Linked DNA regions of Homo sapiens: all the other regions are linked to region 1. The links come from fine-mapping of genetic effects on gene expression. A gene starts in region 1. Each other region holds a variant in brackets. All regions are shown on one strand. Distances are between the middles of the regions.

What was found. PIP is the estimated chance that this variant, and not a neighbour inherited with it, causes the effect.
Region 2: its variant is the best candidate, but not a certain one, in a credible set for the expression of SIPA1L2 in whole blood (TOPMed, PIP 0.75).
Region 3: its variant is the best candidate, but not a certain one, in a credible set for the expression of SIPA1L2 in tibial artery (GTEx, PIP 0.55).
Region 4: its variant is the best candidate, but not a certain one, in a credible set for the expression of SIPA1L2 in whole blood (TOPMed, PIP 0.75).
Region 5: its variant is the best candidate, but not a certain one, in a credible set for the expression of SIPA1L2 in ovary (GTEx, PIP 0.56).

The regions. Positions count from the first base shown.
Region 1 is chr1:232,627,627-232,632,733 of GRCh38, forward strand. It overlaps SIPA1L2 (signal induced proliferation associated 1 like 2), which reads right to left and starts at 2,507. Exons shown (of 23, transcript NM_020808.5): 1 at 2,243-2,507. LOC124904551 (a long non-coding RNA gene) reads left to right here and starts at 2,956. Exons shown (of 2, transcript XR_007066943.1): 1 at 2,956-3,810. RefSeq lists silencers at 2,285-2,384, 2,445-2,924.
Region 2 is chr1:232,601,294-232,606,400 of GRCh38, forward strand. All of the region lies in intron 1 of SIPA1L2 (signal induced proliferation associated 1 like 2), which reads right to left. Among named protein-coding and RNA genes, the nearest start is that of SIPA1L2, 26 kb to the right of the region's middle. The variant GAC/G (reference allele first, on the strand shown) is at 2,256.
Region 3 is chr1:232,411,958-232,417,064 of GRCh38, forward strand. It overlaps SIPA1L2 (signal induced proliferation associated 1 like 2), which reads right to left. Exons shown (of 23, transcript NM_020808.5): 19 at 3,537-3,668. Among named protein-coding and RNA genes, the nearest start is that of SIPA1L2, 220 kb to the right of the region's middle. The variant T/C (reference allele first, on the strand shown) is at 3,137.
Region 4 is chr1:232,363,706-232,368,812 of GRCh38, forward strand. It overlaps LOC105373196 (a long non-coding RNA gene), which reads left to right. Exons shown (of 3, transcript XR_949273.2): 2 at 3,528-3,666. Among named protein-coding and RNA genes, the nearest start is that of SIPA1L2, 260 kb to the right of the region's middle. The variant A/G (reference allele first, on the strand shown) is at 3,123.
Region 5 is chr1:231,853,916-231,859,022 of GRCh38, forward strand. The region is part of intron 9 of DISC1 (DISC1 scaffold protein); the gene reads left to right. The region is part of intron 12 of TSNAX-DISC1 (TSNAX-DISC1 readthrough (NMD candidate)); the gene reads left to right. Among named protein-coding and RNA genes, the nearest start is that of DISC2, 38 kb to the left of the region's middle. The variant C/T (reference allele first, on the strand shown) is at 2,436.

The DNA of each region.
Region 1 (5,107 bases):
ACTAAAAGTTACATTCCATACAATTAAAGCTCTTTGAGAAAATCTATGATTTCAAAACATAAAAAGCATCTAATGAAAAACATATACTTAAAGCAACTGGGTAAAATCTGTGGCCCATACTAAAAGCCAGAAGCTCCACCCCCATACCTGTGATCTAGCTCTTGCTTTTCCGGATCAAGTGCTTACACTGCTTCTTATCCAGGTTCATTTCACCCCATCTATAGGTAGAATGTGGGTACTGATAAAAGCTGTTTCTGATTTCATTTCCTACTTCCCAGATGTTTGCTCTGTAGTTTTTCTTCTTTTTCCTTCAGCTATTTATGAATACACTCTAATTTAGAACAAATTCAGTATGTCTTATTTTAAGCTGGGCAAGGCACACAATAAATGATAGCTACAAAGATAATTTCAAGATATTTACTCAGCGTATAAATAAGTTTGCCTACCTAGGCAAGATTTGGACAGGCTGCCGTGATCTTGCTTTAGAATAAAAGTGCTTAAAAACATAACTGGGAGCCTGCTGCTGCTGCTGCTGCTGTTACTGCTGAAACTACGGGCTATTGTGCTTGTCATAAAAGGGCTTGTGCTTAGAAATGAAAAAATCAAACATCCTCTGGGGAGATGTCCCTAACACAATCCCTGGTATGAATCATGCAGATACTTTAACTGCATCTCTTCCCAAAATGGATCAATGGAATCTTTTAGGAAGAATCAATGTGATTTATACCCAAAACTTAAGAAAGACTGCATTTTTCTCATGAATAATACTCTCTTATAACTCTGAATCAAGCAGTGAAATTCAATCAAGCGGTAAACATCTTTTAACTGGAAATATTGTCTAAACAGAATGACAAAACTAACAGAACTCTGAATTCTTTAAATAAGTCCAAACATGAAACAAGCATTCTTAAATGATGTAACTAAATACAGTAACCAAGTTGTCTCTTGAAATTCAACTTTGGGAATGCCAAAAATAATAGGCCACCTCTCAATATCCGCAAAAATATCGGTATGTGTAGGTTTTCTAGGAAAGCAATAAAAAGCAACAGTTTGGGAGATCTTTTTTCTTCAATTACTAATTGTAACACTAGAAAAATTACAACCTAGGCTGCACACAAACGCGACTCAAATGGGCAGTTTACTAAATGTCTGTCATAAGAAAGCCATCTAGTGTTAACGTTTAGAATGGAGACTGCAGACAAAAGAGGCAAAGAAAAGAAAAATCTGTGCGACTATTTTGAACTTACTGGGCAAAGACATGAGAATCACCAAGATTCTTTGAGGGTTTTTTTCCTTGTTTTTTTTAAAAAAAAGCCATCCTTGTCAAAACCCAGTCTCAATCTAACCAAAATCCAAAATGTCTACAATTTTGTTTTGACCAAAATCATGTTTTGGTGAGCACAATTCCGTAACCAATGCACTTGATTTTTTCCAATACTCAGGCCAGAGTCATCTTGGGCTGAATTAATTTAACTCAAGCAGGTTAATGATGACAAATATCTCCCACAGGGGTAATGCCAAGTTGTTCTCTCTTTCCGAGAAGCCTCGGCTCTCTCTTGCAGATGATGAGCCGAAATTGATTCTTTGGGTTTGCGGCACGGCTGAAAATTAATCTGTAGGTGTTCCCAGGGATATTCCCAGGACGTGGGCAAACTACCCTCACTGACACGGGAAGACCCGGAGAGGCCCAGGAGCTGGCAAAGTGGGAAGAAAGGTCGCGGTGAGTGAGAAGAGCGCTCGCCGGAGGCTCCCGGTCTTACAAAGAGGGATCCGTCCCGGTGAGGGCGCGCGCTCCGGGCGCACCCCCTCTAGAAGGGGAATTAGCCCCGCAGCAAGTTCGGCGTCAGCTGGCCAGGCGCGCCGGGGAAGCTGCGTCGGGCAACCGCGAGCCCTTCCAGAGAGCGTTAGTCAGAGCGAAGTTCTGGGCACCTGGAGAAGACCCTCCTCAGTGCCTGTGTCGCCGAGACGGGAATAACCTTTCAGCCGATCGATAACTTGGAGAGAACAGGCGGCGGCGGCTCCTCTTCCAGCCGGGGATCGGGAGCGCGGGCGCATCTGCGTCTACAAGCCGGACCCTGCGCCGCGACCCTCGCACCCCCGCGCCCCTCGCACCCCTCGCCGCCGTCAGCCCCCCAAAGCGCCCCGAAGGGCATCCCCTTCCCCTTCGGGACAGTCCCCGCCTGGCCGCAGGCATCCCGAACCGACCCTCGCCACGCTGCCCGTCGGATTCCCCGACACGAACCTTCGCAACGCCGTCCGCCGGAACCTGCTACAGCCTGTGCGCGCCGGGCGGCGCGTACCCGGGCTGCCGCCTCGCCGCCCGCCGCTGCCCGGGGCTGCCCATCGGCCCGGACTCTCCCCGCGCCGGGCTCCGGCGGAGGCGGCCCGGACCCGCTGGCTGCGGCTGGAGCTCTCGGCCTGCGCTCGGGCGGCCGGCGGGGGCGCGGTGCTCCTCCTCCGTCCTCCTCCTCCTCTCGCTCCGCCAGCTCCTCCCGGGCTCCCAGTCTGCCGCGCCGGCTCCCGATGCCACCGCCCGCCCGCCCAGCGGCACCGCCCCCCGCCCGCTCTGCGGGCTCCCATTGGTCGCTGCCTGCAGGCCCCCTCGGCCCCGCCCCACGATTGGGCGCGGACGCCGTCAGTCTCACCGTCCGCCCGGCTCCGGGCGCAGCCGGTGCGCTGTTCCCAGGCCCCGCGGCGCGCGGGAGCTGCGCGTCCAGGAGGGGCCCGGACGCCCTTCTTGGGGAGGGGGCTGCGGGGCGCATCATGAGCGGCGCTGGGCGAGCTCGAGGGCCGGGCAGCCTACCTGGACCCCGGCTTCTAGAGAGCCGTCGCCGTCCTTGTCGAGACTCGCTTTCGCCCCTCTGAGGAATAAGTTAAAAACCGCGAGTCTGGTTCTGAGCCGCCCCCTGGCGCAGGCGCGACCCCACCCGGCCCTCCCGTCTCCCAACTTGGGACAGACGCGGCGGCCGGGCGGTCGGATCCGTGAGCCTCGGCCGCTGGGGCTACATACACAGCCCAGGACGCCACAGAATCGCCGAGGCCCCGCGAACGCCCAAACGGCCGCAAGTCGAAGTGATCCCATCTGAAGAAGACAGCGCGAGGAAGCGAGACCCTGCTGTGTGCCGGCCCCCGGAGGGCGCCCCGGGCCCTGTGGGTCGGAGGGTGGGGAAGCACAGAGAAACACGCAGGCAGTAAAACGTTAGGAGGACAGGGGGTGCCAGCGTGCAGGAAATGCTGCTAAGAGACCTTTAGGAGCCAAGGGGAAAACGGAGAGATTGGCAGTTCCAGGCACCCACATCCCAGCGCGGTCCGCTCACCCCTTCCTCCCTGCCCTCCAGGCAGCGCTCAGCCCACGGTAGAAATGTCTTGCATCTTTTTTCCGACGAGGAAGAATTGAACTTTTTATACCCAACTTTTCTGCTTTCTTAGAAATGTTGACTCACCTGTGAGGAAGCATTATTTGAAACTATTATTGTAAATTGCTTGACATTTGAATTAGATGCTGAAAGATTAAAGGGTCTCAGAAGAATCTTTTAAGCTAGACTGGAATTGACTCTGCCTAAATGGACAGCAACAGTCATCTATACGCAGGAATAATAAAGCAGGTGGAGGCAGCCTCTAACTTACCTTCCAGCCACACCGTAGAATTTCCTGAGCAGGCTTTTTTGTCAGAGTTTTGAGCTGGGTTCCCTGAGACTGGATTGGGGCTTTCAGTTTCTCCCCTTCTAGAGTCAGACTTCTTCCTGAAGAAAAAGTGTTATCTCTACTTCCCTATCACAAACACTTCCTAGAACACAGCCCTGTTAAAAGGTAAATAGAGGCGGTCCTTCCCACACTATATTTCTCTGTGATCTGAAGCATGTACACATTATACAATCTTTCGTATCTTTTTAAATTATAGGTATAATCTGTGGGATTAGATATAACTAAACAGGTCAAGAAGCAATCCTGTGACATAATACAATTCCTGAGCACTCCAGGTTTTGATGAGTTTCCCAATTGTCACCCCATTATCAGCATTTACAAGATTGTCATGTATTCATTTAACAAACATTTATGAAGCCGGGCGCGGTGGCTCAAGCCTGTAATCCCAGCACTTTGGGAGGCTGAGGCGGGAGGATCACAAGGTCAGGAGATCAGGATCTTCCTGGCTAACACGGTGAAACCCAGTCTCTACTAAAAATACAAAAAATTAGCCGGGCGTGGTGGCAGGCGCCTGTGGTGGCAGGCACCTGTAGTCCCAGCTACTCGGGTGGCTGAGGCAAGAGGATGGTGTGAACCCGGGATGTGGAGCTTGCAGTGAGCCGGGATCATGCCACTGCACGCCAGCCTGGGTGACAGAGTGAGACTCCGTCTCAAAAAAAAAAAAAAAAAAACAGATTTATGGAGATCCTCTGATGTTCCAGACCATACTAGGTGCTGGGAATATAAAATGCACAGGACATAAGGCTCGGCTTTTCAAGAGCTCACCAACTCACAGGTGTATCCTCATATGTTGTAGATACTCTACAAGAGGTATCAATGTTATCTCCTGTGTACTCAACAAAACCCTGCAGGAGGAGCAGCCGTGAAGGAACTTTTCCTGGGAGTGCCTAGGGAGGACATGATCACATTTCACCTTATTGCGTGTTTCATTGTCTATAAGGGCCTTGAGGAGAAGAACCACATCTCCTCCAGCATTTTGATCCCTAAGGCACAAATCCACTACAATCCGGAGCAGATCCTTGGTCAGTGGGTTGTCATTGAGGTGGGTCTTAACTGCTGCAGCTACAAATGTACACTGTCTAATAGATGAAGAGGAACCCATCCCTTTGATGTGTTCCTTAATATCCAGTACATAATGATCATATATGGAAGGAAGTCTGACCAGACACTCTTCGATGACGGTGTTAGCCACAATTCTCACTCTCTCACCTTCCCATCCCACTTCTTGTGCTTTCCAAACTAAAATTGAAATATCCTAAGCCCCACTACCAAGGTTGGCAGTATTTTTTTTAATGCCTGTAATTGATTGTGCAGAGTAAATATTTGTGTACGTTTATGAAGGTCCGTGGGAGTTTCTTACTTTCCCAGAACTCCACGTCACATGAGGCTGGCCTTCATCGGA
Region 2 (5,107 bases), 26 kb before region 1:
CTCAATCTCCTGGGCCCAAGCAATCCTCCTACAGAATCAATTTTGAGACCCTCACCTTCCCTATGTAACTCTTTCTGAAAACAGACGGGCATTCCTGTCTTTGCAACAGCTCCACTCTCCCTGAAATCTTACTATGGGGCATTCTTCCAAAGTTTAAAACACCTCAGGGCACCAAACAAAGGATAACTCAAAACACTGATCATCAAGATGTCTTCTTTGATGATTAATTATAGCCCATGGTCCCTTGAATCCATATGGCTTCCAGTTTTTATGTGTCTTCAACACATTTCTGTTATGGGTGAAATTTGGCCCATTTGGGGATGTTCTGGATTCAGAAAAACTGAAGACATACAGGTTTAATGGCATAGATGCTCTTAAATGTTTCTGAAATTCCACACCCCCAACACACCAAACGCCAAAATGTTCAAGCCAAGTTACAGAAATGTCAAAGGTAACAATTTTACTTGTATTCTTTACAGTACATTTTTCAACCAGGTAGATAAAATCAATTATCTCAAATTCTATTGTAAAAGGTATATCAAACTAAGTCAATCTTCATATTATTTTCATCTCATAATATGTTTAACAATTCCTACTTGCTATTAACAAAAACATACTATTATTTATGATTTAAAATATGGGATGTCACCTTACAAGCATGTGAAGGAGTATATGTTTTTTAAAAATTATTTCAGAGGGTGCAAAGACAAAAACCTTTGAAGACCATGCCCTTGAGAAAAGCCCTCGCATGGAGAAGGTGGCCTAGTAAACAAATGCTACAAGGCAAGGAGGGGAAGTCACTACCAGAGAGAAAGTGCAGGCAAGACTGAAGACAAGGAGGTGGGCATTCCAAGCAACAAGAAGAGCTTGTGCACAGGCAGAGAAGCAGCAAAGCCAACCTGGATGAGAGGTGAGGGGCAGGAGCCTCTGAGTCTAGAGACCAAGGAGAGTGGTGTGGGAGGAGAGGGGAGGCTCTGAGGACCTACAGTCCATGCTGAGGGGTGCAGATTTTACTCAAGCACCCTCAGAAGGTTTTTTGTTTTGTTTTGTTTATTTAAGATGGAGTCTCACTCTGTTGCCCAAGCTGGAGTGCAGTAGTGCGATCCTGGCTCACTGCAACCTCTGCCTCCCAGGTTCAAGCTATTCTCTGCCTCAGCCTCCAGAGTAGCTGGGATTACAGGTGCACGCCACCATGCCCAGCAGATTTTTGTATTATTAGTAGAGATGGGGTTTCACCATCTTGGCCAGGCTGGTCTTGAACTCCTGACCTCGTGATCCACCCACCTCGGCCTCCCAAAGTGCTGGGACTACGGGCGTGAGCCACTGCCTCTGGCCACCCTCAGAAGGTTATTTAAGCAGGGAAGGCTCATAACTAGATGACTGTTTCCACGCAGAAAATGCTGGCAGCAATATGAAGGATGAAATGGGCAGAGTAGACAACTGGAGACGGAGAGATGAGCTAGACAGCGGTATCTACAGAAACTTCTGCAGTGATGAAAATGTTACTCCTGCAATGCCCAGTATGGCAGCTACATGGGGCCGTTGAGCACCTGAAAGGTAGCTAGTGAGAATGAGGAACTGAATTTTTATTTTTATTTAATTTTAGTTAACCTAAATTTAAATGGCCTCATGCAGTTGGTGGCTACCATATTGAACACACCAGCTAGAAAGCTATTTCAAAATTCAATGAAGGATGACATGTCCTAAGTAAGGCAGGAGCAGGGGGGATAAAAAAGACAGATTCGAAGGCATTTCTGATGCAGAATTAGCGGATGCTGGTGACCAACCAGACACGTGGTATAAGGATTGAGTTAGGGAGGACAACAAGCTTCGTCTAACTGGGCGTCCTATGTTGACAGTGACAGCACATACTAAGACAAAGAACAGAGTGCAACAGAGATCTGGGGGGAAGACAACAGATCCGGAAAGGATTTATTTACTGTGAAATGTATTGAGAAGATCCAAGGAAGACGACTAGGGACAGCTGGAGAAAGGCCAGACAGGTAAAGATCTGGAGGTCTCCTTCCAGAGGCTGTGAAAGATGCCACTTAGGGAGGTGTGATCGATCATGCAAAGTGACAATAAGATCATGAGACCCCAGTGTTTAAAAGGCATTGAGAGGTGGAGAGGCCAGCAAGGGTAGAAGAAAAACGACCAGGGGAGGGAGGAGAACGAGGCGCAGAGGTAAACGTTTGAACAGCAGGGTGTCACTCAGGGTCAAGAGGAGCGGAAAGCAACAGAGGATGCGGCCTGAG[GAC/G]AAGCCGTAGGATTGGCAATACCAGGACCCACAGAGCCGGGAGGGAAGGCCAGATGACGAAAGCCATGGGTGGAAGACAAGACTGGGGCAGCACCAGCAGGGTTCAGAGGTGTGGGAGAGCTGGGGGATGGTTAGGATCACAGCAGCGAGGTCATGGAAACCCACCTCTCCTTCCAGGCCCTGCCATCCACTGATGCAGGTGACCATTAGATCCACATGGGGCACTCAGGCCCTGCTCTAACACCAGCCACATCATTATACCCCAAGTCTTTACTGAGACCATTTCTTCTAGGCCCCAATAGAAACTATCAGAAAAGTTCAAGTTACCTATTTTTGACGACTAAGTAAAAGGGTACCCAGCAGAAAGAGACCTTCTGAAATACAGAAGTGAAGCGAGCAGGGAATTTCACAGAAGTGGACATCATATTTACTAAATCCACAATCAGACTATGCTTTTTAAGACCTGCTGAATGGCATTTTTCAAACAAATCAACCTGATTCCACCACAGGGATTAATTACATCAAGCAGAAGGATACAACGCATCCACAGACTCTTGCTTATCAGTTTAAGAATCTTCAAAAGATTCCAGCACGTGGTAAAGCATAAGGGAACTTCCCCTGTGAGAATCTACACCAACTCCCTTCAAATCAACTTTGTTTTGACTCACTATCACTAATGAGAAGAATATTCATCATTGAATACAATTTTTGTATTTTGACTTTAAAAACCTCTTCGTTCACTAAAATTCACTCCACTTTTATAGTCTGTTGTATTCATTTCCTTTCCAGCCGCCTCCTCTCACTCTGCTCCAGTGTAGGCAGACAAGTTATTTAACACATACCAGATGTTCAATAACGCAGAAAAGTAACTATAGTTTACTGTGCACCTACTATGTGCCAGGCACTTGACAAAGCACTTTCACAAGCATTATCAGAATCTCACAACAATCTTTCACAATAGATACTCTAATCCCCATTTCAAGATGTGAGAATCAAGGCTCAACTTGCCCAAGGTGGTGTATCTGTTTGGGTTTTGTTTTGGTTTGGTTTGGTTTTTTTGAGACAGAGTGATGTGGCTTGGATCTGTGTCCCCACCCAAATCTCATGTTGAATTGTAATCACCAATGTTGGAGGTGAGGCCTGGTGGGAGAGACTGGATCATGGGGGTAGTTTCTAATGGTTTAGCACCAGCCTCCTAGTACTATCTCATGATGGAGTTCTCAGGAGATGTTTGTTTAAATGTGTGTGGCACATAACCCCTCTCCTCTCTTCCTCCTGTGTGGGCCATATAAGACCTGTCTGTTTCCACTTCATCTTCCGCCATGATTATAAGTTTCCTGAGGCCTCCCCAGAAGCCAAGGAGATGGCCAGCATCATGCTTCCCGTGCAGCCTGCAGAACCGTGAGCCAATTAAACCTCTTTTCCTTATAAATTACCCAGTCTCAGGTATTTCTTTATAGCAATGCAAGAACTGACTTAATATACAGGGTCTTGCTCTGTCTCCCTGGCTGGAGTGCAGTGGCTCAATCATGGCTCACTGCAGTCTTGACCTCCTGGGCTCAAGTGATTCTCCCACCTCAGTCTCCTGAGTAGCTAGGACTATAGGCATACATCACCACACCCAGCTAATTTTTGTATCTTTTTGTACAGACGGGGTTTCTCCATGTTGCCCAGTCTGGTGTCAAACTCCTGGGCTCAAATGATCCACCTTCCTTGGCCTCCCAAAGTGCCAGGAGTATTACATGTGTGAGCCACTGTGCCCAGCCACCCAAGGTAGTACAGACTTCAGGTTCAAACCATGGAATATCACAGTGAACAAACCATGGTAGGTGTTCAAAAGACACTGAATAGAAGTTACTCCCAGCTGGGTGTGGTGGCTCACGCCTGTAATTCCAGAACTTTGGGAGGCCGAAACGGATGGATCACCTGCGGTCAGGAATTCAACACAAGCCTGGCCAACACGGTGAAACTCTGTCTCTACTAAAAATACAAAATTAGCCGGGCATGGTGGCGGGTGCCTGTAATCCCAGCTACTTGGGAGGTTGAGGCAGGAGAATCGCTTGAACCTGGGAGGCGGAGGTTGCAGTGAGCCAAGATCGCGCCACTGCACTCCAGCCTGGGCGACAGAGCGAGATTCTGTCTTAAAAACAAAACAAAACAAAACAAAACAAAAAACAAAAAAATAAGGTACTCCAAGCCTCACATTCATTCCACTAAAATTATACTGGCTTGTGAAATACAATTTTTACATTAAGATAAAAATAAAAAATACAGGATTTCTGATTCTCCAACAATATGATAGGACTTCTTACACACATCACACATACGTGCACTGCCTGTGCCACAGTCAGACACAGTTGCTGCTTTCTGATCCATCAGACAATGCTGTAGCACACACAGCACATTCTAACCACATATTCATATCAGTGTCTCAGACACATGATGCTACTGAGTTCAAGAAATTTCAAGTACATTAACAACAAATATATATTATAGGCATCTTTTGTAACAGCAAGAGAAAGGACCTCATAATCTATTAATACTTTTCATCTACTATCATTACAATTTGATAGATACTAAAAATTGACTTCAGAGTTGCTATTCAAACATAATTCTTAAAACATGCTTTCATAAGTCATGTAGACTAATTCACAAAGAGACAATTAGCCTTTGACACTGCACTTAATTTAATAAGCCATTTCAGAATTTTAATAGAAGCATTAACAGGCGTGAAAGAGGAATGAACTTTTTTTTGAGACCTCATAACTTACAAATTAGCTAATTTTTATTTTTAACATAAATGTCAAAAAGCATAGTACCAAAGGGCCGGCAATTATACTGCTAAAAAGA
Region 3 (5,107 bases), 220 kb before region 1:
CCTCCTTTTTGGAGGGAGCTTACTGAGTCCTTATGCACAGAATACCTGACTCTCACCCACAACTATACCATTTATTATGGTCCTTGCACGAATAGAGTTTAAACATTTAAGTAGTCATGATTTGACAGCTTAATTTGGTGCCTCTGCTCTAAATTGGTATAGTATAGTGGTATAGTAAAATCTAAATTCTTAAACTCGCATCCAATGTCAACTTTAGCCCTTAAATGAAGGTGAACATATCATATGCCAAAATGTGTAGCATAAACGAGGTAGACTAATGGGGGAGAGGCAAGTCTGCCAGGGATCAATTACACTATTGGATTTTATAGGGATCATGGGATCTCAATCCAATAGGCAGGTAAATTCCATTTTCCAAGCCTATTTTCAGATATACTAACTGAAATAGGGGCACAGGATTATTCCAAGGAAGTCTGAGGCAATAAGCCTTTTGAACTGCCTTTGTTAGTTTGCAGCAATAACATAAACAAGTACATGGACATGTTTTGGGTTATCTTTTCTTTATAATGTTTACTCTAGCTCAGAAATGGCCTTGAGAACTGGTACAAAAAGATAAAGTTATGAGCAGGGCAACTGGGTTATCTACCTGAAGACATTTCTCTTTAAAAGTGCTAAGGAGATTGATCACGCTCATCACCACCATGCAACTCACGAGACAGGGGAGCAGGTCACTGGGATACAACCTGAGGCAACACTGATACAAGGGAACCTGATTAGCCAAAGGAGGTACACATACTCAACCAAATTTTCATAAGCTGGCTACTGTCTCACCATGACATGCCACCCTATGGAGCAGCATCAAAAATTAAACACGTCATTAACTCCTTCCACATTATTTTATCTATCAATGTTAGAGGTCAATGCTAACTCCTCCCACATTATTTTATCTATCAATGTTAGGGGTCAGTGGTAACTCCTTCCACATTATTTTATCAATGTTAAAGCTCAGATAACCAAAGTCTTCTCCTTTGGCAAATAGAATATTACATTATTTTCTGTTTAATTTAGGCATTCATGTACCTGAGGGCACTGGCTAGGGAGAATTTCCATGTCATACTTTTTCCCTTCTGTGCCAACTACCACCCATACTCTTACTTCAGCTTAGAAATACTTGTTGATAATGAAACCACAGAACTAGAGGTTTAGGACTAGATGAAGCTTTCCTTACAGGTTCTTTGGTTCTTCATTTTACAGATGAGAAGACTGAAGCCCAAATTAATTCAGCACATGTCCAAAAGGATTACTATTTAACATTCACCAAGTTCATATTTGTAAAAGACCTAGAAGAGTATTGGGACAAAGTGTGGATGTCATAGTAGTTAAGTGACTTGTCCAAAGGCCTATGGCCCAGAAATGGCTGAAGTTATGACCGAAATCCCTAAATTGATCATTCAGTCCATGCACCATTTTGCCTTCTCTAATCCCCTGGAAAAAAAAATGCATTTTCTAGCAGTCATTCTGTTCTGAAGGAACATTTGAAAGGGGTGGAAGGGAACCAAGTAAAGACATAAACAAGGGTAGATACAGAGATAAGGTGATAAATATTGTTTGAAATCTGAAAGGTGATCACAAAATGCAAAAGGATATAAGAGGTTGAGAGCTGTGCTATGAGCTGGGATAGTTCTGGGCTGTGTAAAACTGTGTGTATTGAATACCTACTTACTCCTTGTTACTAGCGCTTCTCCTTTGGTTATCTTGATATGTATTTTTGACAAATACAGATAAAATAATAAAAGAGGCAGCCTTCTCTTAAGAAACTCATCTCTTAAGAGACAGGCATGAGAATGAAGCAGAATTCAGTGCGTTCAGTACTCTGCAGATAGTTACACAGTGAGGCCACACAGAGATCTTATCTCTGGTCTAATCTCTCCTGGGGCAGAAAGATCTGGTCAGAGTGAGAGACTGTAGTGTGTAAAGAACACCCCAGGGAAAGAGAAAATGGTGTTACCTCCCCTCTGGGTTGCTCTGGACAGAGGTAAAGACAGCGTCCCTGTGCTCTGGTGCTGGGTCATGCCCAAGAAAGTGCTAGAAGCATGGGGAGCCCAGGAAACAACTAGACCACCAGCCTGGGGCTTCTAAAATATGCAACTAACTTCTGGTAGCATCAGAGAATGAGGGTCTCCCCACAAGGCAGACAGGCAGACAGGGCTCTTCTGAAATTTCTACAAGGACTGAGTGGTTTGTAAAGAAAGCAGTCTCGTTCCTTCCATTTAGGGAGCAGTGAGCGCACATTCATGTTGCAGAAGCTTCCTCCTAGCAAGCTGCCTTTCACCTACTTCCCCTGTGTCCACTTGAGAGTGGATTCCAACTCCTGTTCCCAGAGGCTCAGGACCAGAGGCACTGATACCAGCTGGGTAGAGCGAAGCCACCATCGGGCCTCCCTAACGCATTACGCTAGTCACAGATGAGGGGCAGTGAACCCTCAACCTTCCGCATTTTGACTTCAAATGCACCTCCCCTCCTGGGAAAAGAATTTGATTTTGTTTCCTGAGGCCTGGTGTCACAGGTGATGGGGCTGTGCTAGCAGAGACTGAGAAGGGAAAAGAAATGGGGAGTGAGAAAGAGAAGGAAGGGCCCTGAGGCCTGAGAAGGCAGCAGTGGACTCGGGCGCCTCCAGGATGCTGTGACTCAGTTACACCATGAGAGTCTCACAGAGCGCAGGGCATTAAACAGCCCCTACTAAAATGATCCTGCCTCCTTTGTCAGTCCTAGCTGCCAGGTTCCCCAGTGCCAGAGCCTGCCATCGTAAAAACTCACTGAAGAATGCAGCGGCAAAGGGCAAAACGTCATAAGTCACGATCCCGAGGGCCCCAGGTTTACACAGTATCACCGTGAGGTCCTGAGGCTGCACGTGAAGCAAGCATCTTCCTTGTTTTGTCTACCTTTATCTGCGAGCTGGACAAAGGTGTTCCTGAAGGGGTAGCCTCAACCAAAAATGACAGAAGACAGTGTGGCAGCTGGATGGCTCTTAGAGATTGGCTAGCCCACCTACCCTCACTGACCCACATTTTAAGAGGAAGAAGCCGAGGCCTCAACAGCCAAAGACACTTGCATGGGTCAAGCCAATCACGCTGGAGTCTGTGTTTACGCCAGGTGAACAGACTTCTCGGCCTGTGCT[T/C]GTCCGGCGAAGCCCAGCAGCTCCCGCCTCCTAAATGTGTCCCCCACATTATACCTCAGTATGCTATGAGGAAAGACGCAAGGTGCTCTCCATACAATCACCTCTACTTTTCAGATAGGAAACAGAGGTCCCACCCAGGTCACAAATGGTGCCAGAGCTAGAATTCGGGTTTTCAGATTTCTTGCCTAGTGCTCCTTTTACTAAATGACATGATCTCCCTCAGGAAATGTCCTCACAGCCCAAGCCAGCCCCTGCTTGTTTTCATCATCCAACAAGGCAAAACATTCAAAACTTTGACCAGACGATGGGAGACAGACGGGCTCCCCTAAGATGCCGCACAGGCCCTGCAGGAAAGCACTCCCAGGGTAAGGGGTGAGGCCAGAGGCTGGTGAGTCTTTACCTTCAAATGCCCGTGCAGCATCCACGAGGTGGGTCCAATCTAACCCTGTGGCTGTGTCCGGGAGGGGCATCAGGCCAGGATCTGCGCACTTGGACTTATCTGATAAGGACCCATCGGAGAACCAGAACTCATCTAAACAGAAACAAAACCAGAGAGTCAGTCATCAGTCACAGCACGGGCACCAGCCCAGAGTGAGTCAGAACATGGGCACCACTGCCCCTCCCAGAGTCAGTCAGTCAGAACACGGGCACCACTGCCCCCTCCCAGAGTCAGTCAGAACACGGGCACCACTGTCCCTCCCAGAGTCAGTCAGTCAGAACACGGGCACCACTGTCCCTCCCAGAGTCAGTCAGAACACGGGCACCACTGTCCCTCCCAGAGTCAGTCAGAACACGGGCACCACTGTCCCTCCCAGAGTCAGTCAGTCAGAACACGGGCACCACTGCCCCTCCCAGAGTCAGTCAGTCAGAACACGGGCACCACTGTCCCTCCCAGAGTCAGTCAGAACACGGGCACCACTGTCCCTCCCAGAGTCAGTCAGTCAGAACACGGGCACCACTGTCCCTCCCAGAGTCAGTCAGTCAGAACACGGGCACCACTGTCCCTCCCAGAGTCAGTCAGAACACGGGCACCACTGTCCCTCCCAGAGTCAGTCAGGAGTCAGTCAGTCGGAGCACAGCACAGGCAATGCTATCCCCTCCCAGTGAGTCAGTCAGCACAGGAACCACCATCCCCTCCCAAAGTGGCCAAGATAATTTTTCCTGCTCTTAATGGAAAAAGAAAACATGAGGCTGCAGTTGCCCAAAAGGGATCTAGCTGGAAAAATGGAGGTTTGTAAAAAGCAGGCGAGTCTGCACTAGTGAGAGGTTGGCCAGCATGTAAGGGCAGGGATGGCAGGAAGATTAGAATCAAGCCTCTGTACACTATTGTAATTTCGCGGTTTTCTTCCAGGGGGCTTCTTTTGAGTACATCCAGGTCTGACTATTGCAAGACAAATCCTCATTTTCTTCAGGGGAGACCTTCCTCTTTTTAAAAGTGTTGCAGGGTTTACGTTGCTGTAAGAAGTATTGGAACAATCTCCATCCTGATTCATAAAGCTTACTGAGGAACACTTCTAAGCTGAGCACCACAAACTTGAGATGCCTCAAATACCAATTGATTATAAAAATGTAGTAAGACCAACTTTGCTTTTATCAATACATGAGATTGAGGATGCTATTTGATATACAAAGCACACACATAGTGGTTGGATTACCTTTCTGACTTAGTAAGGTAGTTTTATCAATGGCTAAAGCAGAAACCACTCACCCACCCTGTATTCAATGTTGGGTGGTTTTCCTTTGGCTATGAATGGACCTTTTCCATTTCTTTTTCTCCTTAAACTCTCATCAAGGTACTTAAGTGTTTATGTCATTAATAATACTCGTTGTTAAGAACTTATTACGCATCTGAGGACAAGTTCTAAAAAGGCTTCAACTGGACTTTAATGTGCCTTTTCTGAACCTGCCCAGAACACTGCATGCAGCTGCTTGTGAACACATCTGACTAATTAGACCAATCAAAATAATGAC
Region 4 (5,107 bases), 260 kb before region 1:
CGATAGTGAAACCCCATTTCTTCTAAATATACAAAAAATTAGCAGGCATGGTGGCGGGCATCTATAATCCCAGCTACTTGAGAGGCTGAGGCAGGAGAATTGCTTGAACCTGGGAGGCAGATGTTGCAGCAAGCTGAGATCGCGCCACTACACACCAGCGGGTGTAACAGTGTGAGACTCCGTCTCAAAATAAAAAACAAAAAACGAAGTAGCTTCAAACCCATCAAACCACTTATCTGAGGTTTGTTAGACTGGAGAAATTTAACTATCTTATAAAAGTATCTGGGAACTTAAGATATTATTTTTTAAAAAGAGAGAAAGATTCTAACATTGGTGGTATCCTTCTTGAAAATTCAATATGTTGGGCAAGTCACTTCAACAAAACTGGGATTTTAGTATTTATCTATTAACTGAAATGTAGGCAATGGCAAAAAAAATGAGTTGAGGCCAGGTGCAGTGGTTCATACCTGTAATCCTAGCACTTTGGGAGACCAAGGTAGGTGGATCTCTTGAGGCCAGGAGTTTGAGATCAGCCTGTGCAACATAGTGAGACCCCTGTCTCTACAAAAAAAAAAAAAAAAAAAAAAAAAAAAAAAACAAGGCTGGACATGGCGTGGGTGCCTATAGTGCTAGCTACTCAAGAGGCTGAGGTGGGAGGATCACTTGAGCCCAGGAGTTTGAGGCTGCAGTGGGCTATGATTGTACCACTGCACTCCAGCCTTGGCAACAGAACAAGGCTCAGTCTCAAAAAAAAGAGAGAGAGTCAAAATATTTAAGTCAGTGTTTTCAAATATTTAGGTTACAAGAGTATAAGCGAAAGGTCCACAAGTATGTTGTGAAGACTAAAAATAGGCCTGCCTTATTCCTCCATGACAAGTAAATGCTGCTGCAGTTAAGCAGGTATGAAAGTCATCAGGGAACCCACGCTTCTGTGTCATGCATCTCCACAACCCAAGTGTTTGAACTCTTTCATCTGATGCATACATCTCATTTACTCAATCAGCATATAAAAAGATAACTCAGAGCCATCAGTCATGCGCAAATAAAAACCACTATGAAATGCCATTTTACACTCACTAAGATGGCTATAATAAAAAAAGACAATAACAAATGTTGGCCAGGATGTGACAAAATCAAAACCCTCATACAGTACTGGTAGGATTGTAAAATGGTGCAGCTGCTGTGAAAACCAGTCTGGCAGTTCCTCAAAATGAGGTTAAACATAGAGTTACCATATAACCCAGAAATTCCACTCATAGGCATATATATCCAAGAGAAGTAAAAATACATGTCCACAAGTACATGAATGCTCACAGCAGCATTATTCATAGTAGTCAAAAGCTGGAAACTACCCAAATGTTCATCAACTGAGGTATGGCTAAGTTAGAATATGGTATATCCATAAAATGCAATATTAGATGACAATAAAAATAAATGATGTTTACAAAAAGAAAAAAGGGAGTATCTATAGCAGGCCTGAACCTTGAACATATGCTAAATGAAAGAACCCGCTCATAAAGAACCATAGAGTGTATGATTCCATTTTTATGATATATCCAGAATAGGAAATCCATAGAGAAAAAAAGGAGAATAGTTATTGCCTAGAACCTGTGAGCCTGGGGAGAAATGGAGAATGAGTATGATAGCTATTGGGTACAGGGTTTCTTTCGGGGGTGATGAAATGTCCTAAAATTGAATATGTTGATGGTTGCACAAATCTGTGAATATAATACAAACCATTGAATTATACCTTTTAGATGGACGGAGTGTATGACATGTGAATTATATCTCCATAAAACTATAATAAAAGAAGAAATAACAAGGAAAAATCCCAGAATATTCATAGTCCAGATTAGCCAAATAGGACAATGAATCCATGCATCAAAAGAGAGAGAAGAAACATATTAATTCAGTATGTGGTAAAATTCGCATTTCCAATCAGCAGAAAAGTTATGAAATTATTTCATCGATTAGTTCAACACATTGTGACAGAAAAGTTGGCTACTCATCTGTGAAAGAAGAATAAAGTTAGATACTCTGCTCACATATATATAAAAACAAATTCCAAATTGGCCTAAGATGTAAATGGGCAAAATAATATAAGTTTTATAAAAATAAGCAAATAATCTTATAACTTTGGCATGCAGAAGTTCTTTCTAAACAAGAAGTAAGACCTAAATGTTCTAAAGGAAGTGGTAGACAATTGTGTTTACCTGAAAATCAAAACAATTTACGACAAAAATGTTATAAAGTTTAAAAATGAGCAAGACTATAAAAATATAGTCTTATATATTAGAAATATATAAGAAATATGTATTATATCTGTTATATAACATATATTCATAACATACAGAAAAAATTCTTAATGCACAAACTACAGAAGGAGTTCTTACAAGACCAAAAGTTAAAAAATAATCAATTTTATTATTGATTTTGCATATGCTTTTTAAGGGAAAAAGATATGAACAAGTAACAGATAAAGAAATTCATATGGCCAATAAACACTTGAAAATATACTAATGGAAATTCAATATAAGCAATATAATTTCTTTTTTATCTACTTGATTAACAAAAATTAAAAACATTGTAAACATCTAATGTTGGCAGGAAAAGACATTCACTCTCATTCGATGTTGGTAGAAGATAAATTGGTATATCCTTTTGGGATCAAAATTTGGCAGTGTCGGCCAGGCATGGTGGCTCATGCCTGTAATCCCAGCACTTTGGGAGGCCAAGGTGGGCAGATCACGAGATCAGGAGATTGAGACTATCCTGGCTAACATGGTGAAACCCCGTCTCTACTAAAAATACAAAGAATTAGCCGGGCGTGGTGGCAGGGGCCTCTAGTCCCAGCTACTCGGGAGGCTGAGGCAGAAGAATGGCGTGAACCCGGGAGGCGGAGCTTGCAGTGAGCCGAGATGGTGCCACTGCACTCCAGCCTGGGCGACAGAGCAAGACTCCGTCTCAAAAAAAAAAAAAAAAAAAAAGACAAAAAACAAAATTTGGCAGTGTTTATGTAATTTTATATTCATATGATCTTTGCAGTTCCAATTCAGGAAACTAACCTTAAAAAATACCTGCACAGGTGCACAAAAATTTAAGTAAACATTATTTATGGAAGC[A/G]CTGTTTGTAATAGTAAGAAACTGGGAAAACCCCAAAAAGTCTGTTCCTGGGAGATTATCACCTGAACTGCAGGACAGTCCTACCATGCAATCGTATGCAATTGTTAAAATAATACACACTGACATAGAAAGACCTCCAAGATCTATTCTTAAGGAATAAAAAATAAGTCTCAAAATAATAAACATGGAAAGATCCCATTTATATAAGACTTGTATATAAATATAGATGATGATCCACAGACACCATTACTATGGGGCATGTGATGAAAGATGGAAAGTTCCTCTTATTCTACAGCTGTTTGGTGTTTTTCAATGAGTAGGTTTCTATGTATGATTTCATAAATTTTAATTGATGCTTAAAATGATAAAGGACACAGTGTAGATTAATTCTAAGTTCCTTTCCAGCTCTCCGCATCTATGACTCTGTAACCGTCAGTAGCTACTGCCTCCATCTGCTTTCATCACTGCAGAGGCAGACAACACCACCCTGCAAGATAGTCGACTTTCAGACTTGAAGCCACATCCATTCTGCTAAAATGCACAGGTGTTTAGCTCTGTTTCTTTAACCAATGACATGATCATATTACACTAAGCTTATCTTGGTGTCAAAAGCAAAGCTTGGGTTTGATGGCATGAATCAGGAGATGGCCAACAATGCGGTGCTTGAAGGCTGAAGAGAGTGCTGACTCAGAGTCTCCTTAGCTAGACTGACTGCAAAACTGAATACACAAGGGACTTGCAGAGAGGAAAACAGGGGCAGAGGAATGCAAGGTGCTCCGTGGTTTCCCCACCTGTCCTTTGACCCTTTGCTGTTTAGGAGAACAGGTGAGTTAGCAGAGAACCCAGGATGGCCGTCAGAGTGTTTGCTGTGTCTTAGGAAACAGACCCTGGATAGTCGTGCTCTGGTGAATAAACTGTTCAGTTATTTAAATTTATGGCTAAGCATGGTAGGATATCTTCTTCCAGTTTGGGTTGCAGCTATGGCGTCAGCAGAAATCTACGTAAGACTCAGAAAAACTGGGCCCAAAATGTACACAATCTTCGTTAGGAAATGTTGATGTAAAACAGCAGAAAATCTCTCAAGCTATAATTTCCAACAATTTGCAGTAAAAAAAAAATTCATCTATAAATATATACCATTTATATATAAATGATATATATTATTTTAATAATATATCTTTTATAATATGTATAAATTACTTATACATATTTTCTATTATATATAATATTTTGTATTATACATAATATACAATATATTTTCTATTATATATATTTTGTATTATATATAATATACAATATATTTTCTATTATATATAATATATTTTGTATTATATATATTACAATATATTTTGTATTATATAATATATAATACAATATATAATATATTGTATTATATATTATATAATACAATATATTATATATTGTATTATATATTATATATAATACTATATAATATATTGTATTATATATTATATATAATACTATATAATATATTTTATTATATATTATATATAATACAATATATAATATATTGTATTATAATACAATGTATTATAATGTATTATATTGTATTATATATTATATATAATACAATATATAATAATATATTATAATATATAATAATAATATAATATAATAATAATATATATTGTATTATATATTATATAATACAATATATAATATATTGTATTATATATATTTTATTACATATAATATATAATACATTATATAATATATTTTGTATTATATATAATATATTTTATTATGTATTATAGATAATATATTTTATTATATATTATATATAATACAATATATAATATATTTTGTATTGTATATAATATATAATACAATATATAATATATTGTATTATATATAATATTAATATATTTTGTATTATATATTTATATTTTATATTATAATTATGTTTTGCATTATATATTTCATATTATATATACCATATTTATATATGTCATATTTATATTATA
Region 5 (5,107 bases), 770 kb before region 1:
ACCCTAAACAACCTCCTTTAGCAGCTAAACTGACAATAATAATCTGTTGTTTACTGCACAGGATTGAGATGAGTGTAGCAATCTCCTAGACGAAGGGCCAAGCTGCTCACCCACCTGGGTGGGGTGGTCAGTCTAGGGCGGCCCAAGGGGATTCTTGGGTCACGATGACCCTGGGGCTGATAACCAACTCACAAATACATAAATCAACAACATGAGGCTAGCTTCTGCTGGGGCTTTGTTGTCTGGTGGGCCTGAGTTTTAATCCCGGCTGACCTCTTACTAAGCGATTGTGGGTAAGTCATTCTAATTTTTTTCTCTCTGAGCCTCAAATTCCTCATCTATAAAGTGAGCATGAAATCCTATTCTAGTCATTCTGAGGGACAACTGAAGTGATATATGTGATAATATGAAATATGATAGATGTGATATATAGAACTGTAAAACTTTTAAAAAGTAAAATGCCTGTTAAATTGTTAAATATGTGTAATATGTGAAAAACTCCTGGCAAATATACCTACTAATATCCATTTCCATATAGTTCTTTTATATAAAAGGTAGAGCAGTATATGTAAACCTTCTAATAAAACACTTAGCTATAACTATGAATTCTCATGTGCTCTTCCTGCTGTCAGCCTCTCCTCCTGCTGTTAAATCTTTGCAAGGCCTCCTCTAGTTGTTATGTTCTGAAAAGATTCAAGTTTGTATCCTAGACTTCAAAGTTATGTCTCTCCTATGTGGTGTGTAGTGTATCACCCTGTACTTGGAGGTATGTGATACAAGAAACTAAGGAACTAAAATAATTCTTTTTTTTTTTTTTTTTGAGATGGAGTCTCACTCTGTCGCCCAGTCTGGAGTGCAGTGGTACGATCTTGCTCACTGCAACCTCTGCCTCCCGAGTTCAAGCAATTCTCCTGCCTCAGCCTCCGGAGTAGCTGGGATTACAGGTGCCCGCCACCATGCCTGGCTAATTTTGTATTCTTAGTAGAGATGGGGTTTTACCATGTTGACCAGACTGGTCTAAAACTCCTGACCTCAAGTGATCCACCTTCCTCAGCCTCCCAAAGTGCTGGGATTACAGACATGAGCCACTGTGCCTGGCCCCTACAATAATTCTTTAATGTGAGGAAATATCAAATGAAAAATAAGAAATTCTAGGTAAGGAAAGAAATTTATTTAGTGGAAGTATAAAAGAAGTTTAAAAAGTTGAAGAAAATTTTGGTTTTCAATGTTGATGCAGCGTCCTTTGTGAATCTTTAAATTTGTGAATGACACTTTTGAAAACTTACACCTTATTCTAAGTGTCTTTGTTCACTTTACACTGTACTGTAAAGAATCACAAGAGTGTCTCATAAATAACTTTCTATATAACATATGTATATTTCAAAATAACATGTTATATATATAATACATACAATTTTTGTCAATTAAACAGTACATTAAAAAGACAAAAATAACTTTCCATAAATGAGCTCAAGTTATTTCATCCACAGTGATAGAATGTTCCCCATTTGATGCAAGCAGTTAAACTTAATTTCCATTAAGACAAACACACAAATAACAATCCTCCTTCCCAAACTTGAAATCCCACTTCTCTTTTTGAACTCTCTTCATGAAGTAGTCCCTTTTCTTGCATTTACAACATAAAGCCTAAACCACAAATATTGGAGGGCAGGGGTTGAGGATGAGCAATTGAGATGTTCCTCATGCCCTTAAACCAAGAGTCCTTATGTTCTCTCCTTCCTAAGGATGGCTTATTTTCCTTTCCATGAAATGACTTTAAGGGTGATTATATCCAAAGGGAAGTGACGTTTCCCCTTCTTTCTCTTCAGTTGGTCCATTTTCACAGCCCACAAAAGCAAGTCTCTATTTTGGGACTTGATTCAAAGTCTGAAAAAACCCTAGGCACATCTTTCTTCCTTGAATATGTTCACGTGCATATTCCAAAAAAGGTTCTCATTGCTAGTTAGGCCATTAATTTTATGTGATATCCAAATCAAACAGCTGCTGTACTGTTTAAGCTCAGATCCTAAAATGGCACTTTGAACATGAAAGTCGTGGCTGCCACTCTCTGGGTGACTATCTGGCGATGACACTTCTACCTTTGTTTTTGGCTTGACGTGCATATGCCGAAGGCTTCAGCAAACATAAACTCATACAAATGTTTGTCAAGCTGTGTGAGCCTAAACAGCTCATTAGTTGCAAGAATGATCAGATGGGAGATGGGTTGCCCAATTTGGATGGTGACCTTTATGAGCTCTCGGTTGGATTGCAGATTTATGTGTCACAGTATATTGGAACATAATGAATCCTGTGGCATGTGGATGGTAAAATGCAGGGCAGAAACTGTGCAATGAAGAGGCAGGAAGAAGGTGGCAGGTCCAGGAGCATAAGAGCAGTTAATCATCTCCTTTCCCCCTTCCCCTATTCTGCTTCCC[C/T]TCTGTTCTCGGGGTGCCCATTAAAATGCAGTTGGTAATGAAATGCTGTTTGAAATCAAAGTTGCTGAAACGATATTGTGGATATTGTGGAAATCTGTCATATTTATTTTAAGGATGAGCTTACTTCCAGGTGCTTTCAGTGACTGCAGCCCCGTTAGTTCCCATGCATTGATTCTCTCTCATGTCCCTGCTCCAGGGTAATTCTCTTGTGCTCAGGCACATGACCTTCTAGTTGAAAACCTGCCCCTGCCATTTCTTTATGTGGCTGCGGCCCAGGGAGCTTGCCTGCCCTGCGTGAGCAGGTTGCAATGATAATGGTTCCCAGTGCTGCTCAGTGGGGAACTGAAGTCATGGTATTTTCCTTCATATCCTCTTGAAGCTTCATTTTGTGACCTTGTTTCATCCTGCTGAACCTATCATTGGAATTACCCCAAAGGTGGTGGCAGGGGAGTCCCCAGAAAGGAGTGCCCCAAACTTTCCCAAGATGGGGCCTACTGAGATTCCAAAGAAAGAAGCAGTAAAAGCCGGAGTGATCAGGCCAAAGCATTCATTAGGGGAACTTAGGCAGAGTGGGCTGCAGCAATCCTGCGGCGGCAGCATGAAAAAAGGGGTCTTCCACCTAGAAACATCCACAGCGAGGTGCTCAGGGGATGGAGTTTACATGAGGGTTTAAGGAATTTGGCTCAGGGCCAGGGCCAGTTTCTTTCAGTGTTTTGGGCAAAAGCTTAGATACCTTTATCAATGTGTGGGAATGTTCAAGGCCCTGGTTTGGGTTCAAGCCTGCTGGGAAAAACCTGCAGCTGTCTGGGTCACAGAGCGGTCAAGGCACTCTGTGAGTTTTGGTCACAACAGAAAGGCAAGGGCTCTAGGGGACCCTCCAGAACTACAGGCTCCAATGTCAGCCCCACTTTCCCAAGTACAAATTTATTTCAGAAATTAAAGTACTACTCTTACTTTTTCACACATTTCGAAGTCATGTGTTGACATGGATAGCCTGTCTAGCACAGGAAAACTCTGATCTATTTAACTGATTTAAAATGTTTATAATTGATTATCTGGATAAGTGTCATTGATGGCACTCCAGGTGTGTGAAGACGCCACTGGCCTGGGAATCACGACATGTGGGGTTTGTCCCAGATCCCTGCCATGCCATTTAAACACCATGGGCCTCAGTTTCCTCACAGCAAAAATTAGGGTTATACTAGATATTCTCCATGGACCTTGTCAAGTATTTTTTGTGATGCTGGGATTTTATAACTAACACAGGCAAACAATAACCTAGAATGATTAGAATCTTGAAAAAATTGTTTGTTTGTTTGTTACAGAGAATCTTGAAGTTAGCTGAAGTCTGTTTGACTTTCTTCCGGAATCAGCACAGTCCAAATGCAGCCATGACTTCTCACTGTCAGAACTAGACGGGCCACACTGAGAAAGAATGTGGACCGGCTACCCGGAATCTGGCCGCTTAGTGCATTCAAGAATGCTGCTTGGTTTCTATGGCTGTGATTTCCAAGCATTTTCTAAAAGGTTTATAGAGGAGAAACCTAAGTGCCTGCCACCACCCCACCTTGAAGTCAAATTTCCCTGAAGGCACTGGAGCATAGGGAGAAAAACATCAGCTAACTCTTGCCGCTATAGGCCCGGGTTAAATTGCAGCTGGGAAATTCATTCCAGTGGCTTGCCGGGCTAAACACAATTGTGGATGGAGCCTGGAGAAGCATCCAAGCAAACAACCACTTGTGTCAGTTCAGTTGTTTCACCAAAAAAGCAAAATAAAACAGATTTTACTAACTCAATTAATAATTCAGTTGCCCCATAAAATATAGCCTCACTGAATTTCTTGTCTTGTCTTCCAAGACATTAAGTCAGGGCTTATTTATAGCCATGGCTCTCTTCCCTGGCTAAGCATCCGGGCCACCTGCCCCAGCAGGTGAGCCCTTGGTCCAAGGTGGTCCTGGACTCAGCATGTTTTTCAGAGTTCTCCAGGTAATTCCAATGGTTAGTCAATTTATCATTCATTTGGGGCTGATTATCAGTCTTCCATGTGGATAAAACCAGTTAATTTCCTGTGGATCTTTTTTGAAAGCCTTATTAAGAGGAGGGAGCCCTGTTTTGAACTTGTGTCATGAGCTCTGCCTGTCTCTGGAGGTGGCAAGGGTGCTCGTCTTCATTCTGGTCTGTGTCGCATGCTGTCTTCCTCTGTCTCCCTACTCTTTCTCAACCTTCTTATTTACTATTCCACACACTCGCTGGGTTAGACAACCTTTTCTGTTGTTCTGCTGAAGGTTACAATTTGGAGTCGATTCCTGTAGTCTTCCTTTTTCTATTCACTTTCAAAAAAGATGTTGCAAAGTCCAAGTTTCTTCCTCATGTTCCGTTTCTCTGGGGAGTGCTGTAGAAGTTTCCATACCTTCCTGCTTCTGGCCTTCTTAGTATTTTAATAACTCCTGCCTTGTTCCCAGGTTTCTCCAAGTATCTGGGGAAAGTAGAAACCTCAGAGATGGGGTCTGGAAATGTAAAACGTTGATGAATTTCAGGGTCACCCTTGTGAAAGCTATTGATTGGTCAGAGGTATTCTGGAAAAGTCTGCAAAATCCAGAAGCTAATTTCTATTTTAAAATACACCCTATAACTCTTGAGTGCCCACTCATCCTCAGCTGGCTCTGGGGAAT